Linked DNA regions of Homo sapiens: regions 2 and 3 are each linked to region 1. The links come from fine-mapping of genetic effects on gene expression. A gene starts in region 1. Each other region holds a variant in brackets. All regions are shown on one strand. Distances are between the middles of the regions. Region 1 holds the start of LINC01504 (long intergenic non-protein coding RNA 1504). Region 2 overlaps LINC01504 (long intergenic non-protein coding RNA 1504). Region 3 overlaps LINC01504 (long intergenic non-protein coding RNA 1504).

Region 1 (2,765 bases):
TTTTTGGTTCCTGTTTAACCAACCCAAAGTTAGAATTGGCTGAGAAAACTCTTACTAGCAAGTAATGTTATTGTCAAATAAATAGACTTAGGGATAATGTCAGCCCTAGTTAGTTGGGGTCACCCTGCCTCTTAAGATCTAGAGGACATAGGCTCAATCCCCCATACCAAGACTTGCGGAAGTCCAACTCAGTCTTCAACAATTCCATGCATTGCCAGAGGGCTTACATTCTCATGATCAGTTCTGGCTTCAAACTCCTATTTTGCTGAATTTGTTGAGTTTAGAGATAATCTTTTCATTGCCTCTTGTGTTCCTTATTCTGTATCACCTCAATACAATGTAGATCCTGGCCAGCCAGCCAGCCTGCCTTCCTCTCCTCCTCATCCTTCTTCTTCTCCCCCATCCTCTCTCTTCTCTTGTCTCTCTCTCTCTCTCACTCTCTCTCTCTCTCTCACATACCCACACCCACACCCACACACACACACACTCACACAGGCATTTTTATATGTAGTCAACTTTGCTGGAGTTTGGGAAAGGTAAAAGTAGTTTGCATAAAATGTAAAAAACATGAATACAATATTCATCATCCTTGTCCTTGTTCTTAAAAAGCAAATCTTTCATTCCTTTTCTGCCACAATTCGGGCTCCAGCCTCCCTCTCTTCCTTTTCCCCTCCTTTCTATGCCCACTCTCTTTTAAGAGAAGAAAAAATTCCTCTCATTCTCTTACAGGGGACAACTTAGCCCTCCCAGAAACTTACTGGGTCATTTTGACTGCAAGTGACAGAAAACAAAGTTCAAGCTGCTTGACACAAGAGGATCTACTGAGCCTTATAACTTAAAAGTCCAAGGGTGGATCTTGTTTCGGGCGTGGGTAGATAAGGGAGCTCGGCCGTGTCAGCAGATCTGATTTCTGTCTCAGTGTGTTGGCTCCACCCTTCCTGATTCTGGCTCCCTGTCTCAGCAAAACTCTCCTTGCTTTACATTGGGCCTACCCCTAGGCCTGTCAGTGTGGGCTGGGAATGCAGCACGCTCATTGGCTTAGGCCTCATTCCCATCATCCAACCCTGGCTCCAGGAGGATGGGATTAGTGTGACTCAAACACGTGGAAAGGAGTGGTTCTTCTGAGGAAAACCAGCTGAAGTATTACAGAAAGAGGAAATGCTGCAGAGACCCAGCCGGAAACAGTGCTGGCCAGCTCACGCCTGACCCACCCTTATTCTAAGCATAGGGTCTGCCTCTGAAGAGCTAAAGACTTCCTGAAATTTAAAAATTAGTGCTTTTATTTGCTTGTCCTGCTAAGACCGTAGGCAAAGGCCATCCTCCTCCCATTGACAGTTTAGAGTGGGTAAGTTCGTTTTTATAGATATTCTAAAATGCCCTGCAGGTACCAGAAACGTTTTATATCTTGATGGTAGGGGTTACACGGGGTATACATACGTTAAACTTTATCAAGCTGTACAGTTAAGGTTTGTGTACTTTACTGTATATGTAGTTTAGTGTACAAGCTGTACCTCAGTTAATTTTATTTTGTAATTTCCTGCAAGATTAGCAGCAAAAGCGCATGTGATGTCGAGTGCAACACTCAAGCCCATGATCTTTGGTTTGCCTTTATACTAAGCCTTATTCAGCCAGAAGCCAAGAAATAGCCCAGCTGAGGTCACCAGGGTAGAAAACCCATATGGGTTTGGGATTAAGTCCTATTTTGTATTAATATGGGTATATTTGCCTGAAGTGTCTTCTGGAACCTATATTTAATTTGTGTCCCTCAGAAACTGAGTATGTTGACACAGGAAACATTTAGAGACTGGGGATAGCCTGAGAGTCAATGTCTATAACTAAGGCTTCTAAACATTCCCCTAAATTATTCAGGTGAACATTACAGTAGTCCCCTCTTATCTGGGGGGATACCTTCCAAGCCCCCCATTAGATGCCTGAAATCAGATTTTACCAAACCCTGTACATACTATGTTTTTCCTATACATACATAACAATTATAAAGTTTAATTTATAAATTAGGCACAGTAAGAGATTAACAACAATAATAATAAAATTAAAAAATTACAACAATATACTGTAATAAAAGTTATGTAAGGCTGGCAAGGTGGCTTATGGCTGTGAACTTTGGGAGGCAGAGGCGGGAGGATCCCTTGAGCCCAGGATCCTGGGCAATTTGGCAAAACCCCATCTCTACAAAAAATAAAACACTTAGCCAGGCATAGTGGCGCATGCCTGTGGTCCTAGTACTCAGAAGCTGAGGCAGACGGATTGCTTAAACCCAGGGGGTTGAGGCTGCAGTGAGCTATGTTTGTGCCATTGCACTCCACTGTGGACAACAGAGCAAGACCCTGTCTCAAAAAAAAAATTATATAAATGTCTCTCTCTTTCTTTCAAAATACCTTATTGTACTGTACTCACATATTTTCAGACCACAGTTGACCTCAGTTAACGGGGAACTATTGTATTCAAGGCAGAAAGATAGTTTGCCTTCTACCATAAAATGGTGCTATTCAAAGTCATCATTCCTCAGTGAAACATCACATTTGACAGTCCTTTAGAGCAGATTGTAATGGATTTAGAATTGGAAGATCCACCTTTAAGTCCTGGCCTTGTCCTTTACTGGCTGTGTGGCTTTGGGCAAGTCACTTAATTGTGGCTGAGCTTCAGTTCCACATCTATAAAATGATGATATGGGAGGTTCCTGTCTTTCAGGGCTGATCTGCAATACAGAGATGACACATGCAAAGATCTTTTGTGAAATGGTAAAG
Region 2 (2,765 bases), 20 kb after region 1:
TCTTAATACTTGTTACCTATTGAAAATAAAAGTAAAGTTACATTTAGGATTTGTAAATATGTGGATTAACTTCATGGACAAATGTAGAAAATGACAGTGGTCTCTAAGGAACAAGCCCCTGGCTAACTTGGAGTAAATAGCACAATCATAATTGTTTAATTATGAACATGCTCTAATTCTCATGCCACTCTTACAAGGTATGTGAGGTCACACAAGAGTTTCTCCAATAAGTTTTTATATATTTATTGAAATGTACTAAAAGTTTCTATTTTATGCTTTTTACATGTAGTAACTCATTTAATGCTCACAGCTACTCTGAGACATAGATAATATTGTTATTCCCATTTTACAGATGAAGGAACGAGGGCACAGAGAGATTCGAGTTGTCACCCAAGCTCACATAGCACCAGTGACAGAGGTGAGATTTGAATCAGGCAGCCTCTGTCTAGAGTTCCCTTCCTAACCTCCATTCTATACTGCTTTCAAAGATCCAGCCCTTCCCTCAAATCACGTTTTCTTACTTAGACTAGGGTTTGATTCATGTTTACTCACTGGGAATAAAGGTCAGTTAAACAGAATGAGAGAACAGGAAAGTCTTTCAAAATGATGCTTCTGTCTACTTACATTGTCTGTTACTTTAACAACTTAGGGATTCTTGGAGCAAGTAAAGAACCAAATATAAAGACTGCTTTGTGGGAGGTAGCTTGGATCCTTCATCATTTTTTTTCCCCCCATAACTCCTGAGTTCCACTGGAGACACAGATTCTCTGGGGGTAAGATTAGCGGATTCGTATTTTAACAGACCTCTGGCGGTTCTTCTCTATGCTAAAGTTTGAGAACACTGCTTTCAGCATTTCTAATCTCATCTCAAATTCATCAGGGAGCTGTTTCCTCCTTCATGAAAAAATCTTTGACTTAATGATAGCTACCCAGGCCTACCTTATTAGCTAAAGGGGGCATAGAGACTTAACTCTCAGTGGTTGACAATTATTGTAAAGTAATTCTTGCCGTTATTTTTCTCCCCTAAGGGTAAACTTAGCAGCAAATGGCATACTAGTAACTTAACCAATTGAAAGGGTAACAGCAAAACTAACAACCAAGTTTGCTTTTGATAGGTAGAATTGGCTGCCTATAAGGTGTGACATGAAAGTTGAAGGAAGGCTCACTTTTGCAAATATCTTTCCCACTGTTCTGCCAGGGGGAAGCAATTTTTTGGTTTGGGTTCCCCTAAATTCCAAATATGTTACCTAGGAGGAGTAATAAGTTATACATTAAACTGTTATGATTCAATCACAGCTTTAAAAAGATCGCAAAATTAGCTCTCAGGTTACTTAGCAAATAACCAATTAAGGTCTTGAGAGGATAATATTTGGGATGG[G/A]AAAATTTAGGTGGGTAGAAAAAGGCTGAGCAAAGTCAAGAATGTAGGCTGTTACCAAAGGCCAAATGGCAATACTGGACCAGCATATCTTCTTCTGCTATTTCCTTTATGCCCCTGAGGGTTCTTCTGAAGCAGGAGTTGGCAAACTTTTTCTTTTCTTTTTCTTTTGAGACAGAGTCTCACTCTGTTACCCAGGCTGCAGTGCAGTGGCATGATCTCAGCTCACTGCAACCTCCACCTCTGGGACTCAAGCGATCCTCCCGCCTTAGCCACCCGAGTAGCTGGGACCACAGGTGCACACCACCACACCCAGCTAATTTTTTTGTATTCTTGGTAGAGACAAGGTTTCACTATGTTGCCTAGGCTGGTCTCAAACTTGTGAGCTCAAGCGATCCGCCTGCCTTGGCCTCGCAAAGTTCTGGGATTACAGGTGTGAGCCACCACACCTGGCCGCATACTTTTTCTATAAAGAACCAGATAGAGGCTGGGCATGGTGGCTCACGCCTGTAATCCCAACACTTTTGGAGGCTGAGTCGGGCAGATGACCTGAGGTCAGGAGTTCAAAACCAGCCTTGACCAATATGGTGAAACCCTGTCTCTACTAAAAATACAAAAATTGGCTGGGCATTGTAGCATCTGCCTGTAATCCCAGCTACTGGGGAAACTGAGGCAGGAGACTCGCTTGAACCTGGGAGGCAGAGGTTGCAGTGAGCTGAGACTGCACCATTACACTCCAGACTGGGCAACAAGAGGGAAACTCCATCAAAAAAAAAAAAAAAACCAGACAGAAAATATTTTAGGCTCTTCAGTCATGTGGTCTCTGTCGCAACTGCTCAACTCTGCCATTGTAGTGTGAAAGCAGCCATGGACAATATGTAAACAAAACAGTGTGGCTGTGCTTAGTTATGAATCCTAATATTTGAATTTAATATAATTTTCATGTTATAAATTTTTAATTATCTTGTTTTTTCTCAACCATTTAAAATATGAAAATTATTCTTAGTTCAGGGCACATATAAAAACAGATGGTAGGCTGGATGGGCCAGTTTATTGATCCCTGTTCCAAAGCAAAATCAATTTGCTGTTTTCAATACATACTCCATGCTATCCTACTTCTTTACATTTGCTTTCATTATTCCTTCCACTTACGTAGAAGGAGCCCTACACACCCCAACCTACATGCCCATATGTACCCATCACCTAGTTCAATTATTAGCTTATTTTCAAAGTAAACTCTCATCCTCTAAGTGCCTTCATCTATACTTCTCTGATGGCCTTGATCATGGCAGATTTGTATTACTTTGTGGTCTGTGATTTTTTTTTAAATTTTATTTGTTTACGTATTTATTTATTTTTGAGATGGAGTCTTGCTCTGTTGCCCAGGCTG
Region 3 (2,765 bases), 30 kb after region 1:
GGCAGGAGAATCACCTGAACCTGAGAAGCGGAGGTTGCAGTGAGCCAATATCGTGCCATTGCACTTCAGCCTGGGTGATGGAGTGAGATTCTGTCTCAAAAAAAGAAAGAAAAGAAAAGAGAAAAGAAAAGAAAGAAATGGGGTCTGCAAAGAGTTTTGTTTTTTCAATTCATCGATGCCTTATGAAGTAGATGGGCTGTTAGTTCCACTCTAGTGCAAGAACCACTCCCTCTTTCCTCTCCGCCTCAGAGTTTACCTATTTATTCCAGAAACAAAGGCACAGACGTCATTGTCACGTTGTGCACTTGAATTTCAACTCCGAACTGACCACAGTTAAGCTTGAAGCAAATTGAAAGACTCTGGGTAGATAGTATGGGAAAGTCTAAACAAAACATTGGTGGCCAGGAAGAATGCCTCATGGTGACATGTAAGGAGGCCAGCCAATGCCCAGACAAGACAAGGAGAGCCTCAGGAAAGACAGGTTAGTGGCCACACCCTCTGAGTTCTCATCCTGTCCTATTGAAGAGGAAATGAGTCTCTGAATAAGAGTCTTTCTCCTCATCTAGAATCCTAAAATGTTAAAGCTGGAAAGAACCTGAATATACTGTCTAAAGCCAAGCCTTCATTTTACAGGTGAAGAAAACTGAGGGTCTTAGAGGTCAAGGCACTAGTCTGTGGTCACACAGCTGCTTCACGGCAGACCCAGAAGTAGCCTGCGGTTTTCCTGAGGCTCAGTTCACATCTCTCTGCTCTGAGGAGCCATTTATTTTATTTTAATTCTTTTAAAAAATGTATTTTATTTTTAATGGATAATTAATAATTGCATATATTTATGAGGTACAATGTGATATTTTCATGTATATGTATTCATTATGGAATAATTAAATCAAGCTAATTAAGGAAGAATAATTTATTTTTCTTTCTTTCTTTTTTTTTTGAGACGGAGTTTTGCTCTGTCACCCAGGCTGGAGTGCAATGGCCCGATCTCGCCTCACTGCAACCTCCACCTCCCGAGTTCAAGAGATTCTCCTGCCTCAGCCTCCCAGGTAGCTGCTCCAGGCGCCCACCACCATGCCTGGCTAACTTTTGTATTTTTGTAGAGACGGGGTTTCTCCATGTTGGCCGAGACGGTCTCGAACTCCTGACCTCAGGTGATCCGCCTGCCTCAGCCTCCCAAAGTGCTGCGATTACAGGCGTGAGCCACCGTGCCCAGTGAACAATTTATTTCCTAATCATCATGAAGAGAAGAAAAATAATTATTTATTCTCTGTTCATGTAAGTATGTCCAAGTAATTTATTAAGGAGTAAGAAAAGAGGACTAAAACCCTTAACTAAAAATGAAGTAAAAAGTTTAGATTTCTGGCCTTGCACATGTAGTTCCAGCTACTAGGGAGGCTGAGGTGGGAGGAGAATCACTTGAGCAGAGGAGTTCAAGGCCATAGTGTGCTGTGATCGCACCACTGCACTCCATCCTGGGCAACAGAGCAAGATGCTGTTTCTAAAAATAAATAAATAAATAGAAATTTAGATTT[A/C]TAAGAAAAATTATCTTGATTATTGACTGCAATGTTACTTTTTTTTTGAGATGGAATCTGGCTCTGTCGCCCAGGCTGGAGTGCCGTGGTACAATCTCGGCTCACTGCAAGCTCCGCCTCCCAAGTTCATGCCATTCTCCTGCCTCAGCCTTCCGAGTAGCTGGGACTACAGGCGCCCACCACCACGCCCGGCTAATTTTTTGTATTTTTTTTAGTAGAGATGGGTTTTCACCGTGTTAGCCAGGATGGTCTCGATCTCCTGACCTCATGATCTGCCCGCCTCAGCCTCCCAAAGTGCTGGGATTATAGGCGTGAGCCACCGCGCCCAGCCTGTTACTTTCTTTTTAATAAAATTCTCTATTATTTCTAGAGTATGGCCAGACATGGTACATAAACCTTCAAAAGTGTCCTGGCGTGTCCATCTCTCCTCCTACCCAATAAATCACGTTATTCTCATCTCCATTTCCAGTTACCCTCTGAAATTTCCCAATTCTGGTAATATTCCCTTTAAATGTTAGGAGAATGCAAATTCATTTTTAAAATTCCTGTATCCACTTAGCAAATTATAGCTAAAGCTAAAATTTCAATACTTCATCAATCTTATTTCTAAATAGAAAACAGGTAAGTACAGGCAAGTCTGAATTATAGAACTTTTTGAAAGAAATTTAATTGACTTAATTACAACAAATGAGTTTACAAGATATAAAAAAAGAGATGTTGGGAGTGGGCGGCTGGATAAGAATGAGCTGTAATCACCATAAGAATTATTTTCATTTTTCTAGGCTGGCACTGTGCCTCACATCTGCAATCCCAGCATTTTGGGAGGCCAAGGCGGGCAGATCACTTGAGGTCAGGAGTTCGAGACCAGCCTGGGCAACATGGTAAAACCCCATCTCTACTAAAAACACAAAAATTAGCCAGGTGTGATGGAGTATGCTTGTAGTCCCAGCTACTTGGGAGGCTGAGGCAGGAGAATTGCTTGAACCTGGGAGGCAGAGGTTGCAGTGAGCCAAGATGGTGCCACTGTACTCCAGCTTGGGTGACAGAACAAGACTCCATCTCAAAAAAAAAATTATTTTCATTTTTCCTAAGGAAGAAATTGGCAAAGTTTGTTTGCAGCTGGAGCACAGTCTTAAAATCTTTGCCACATTATTGTCATGCTTAGCAAATACAAAGTATTCCCACCTCCACCAACTCCCTTAGGACTCAGACTGTAAGATTTACAGAGCTCTG

What was found.
Region 2: its variant is fine-mapped to the expression of LINC01504 in whole blood (TOPMed, PIP 0.98).
Region 3: its variant is fine-mapped to the expression of LINC01504 in whole blood (TOPMed, PIP above 0.99).

The regions. Positions count from the first base shown.
Region 1 is chr9:72,304,281-72,307,045 of GRCh38, forward strand. LINC01504 (long intergenic non-protein coding RNA 1504) reads left to right here and starts at 1,156. Exons shown (of 5, transcript NR_110952.1): 1 at 1,156-1,345.
Region 2 is chr9:72,324,637-72,327,401 of GRCh38, forward strand. All of the region lies in intron 2 of LINC01504 (long intergenic non-protein coding RNA 1504), which reads left to right. Among named protein-coding and RNA genes, the nearest start is that of LINC01504, 21 kb to the left of the region's middle. The variant G/A (reference allele first, on the strand shown) is at 1,379.
Region 3 is chr9:72,334,452-72,337,216 of GRCh38, forward strand. It overlaps LINC01504 (long intergenic non-protein coding RNA 1504), which reads left to right. Exons shown (of 5, transcript NR_110952.1): 4 at 941-1,046. Among named protein-coding and RNA genes, the nearest start is that of ZFAND5, 29 kb to the right of the region's middle. The variant A/C (reference allele first, on the strand shown) is at 1,533.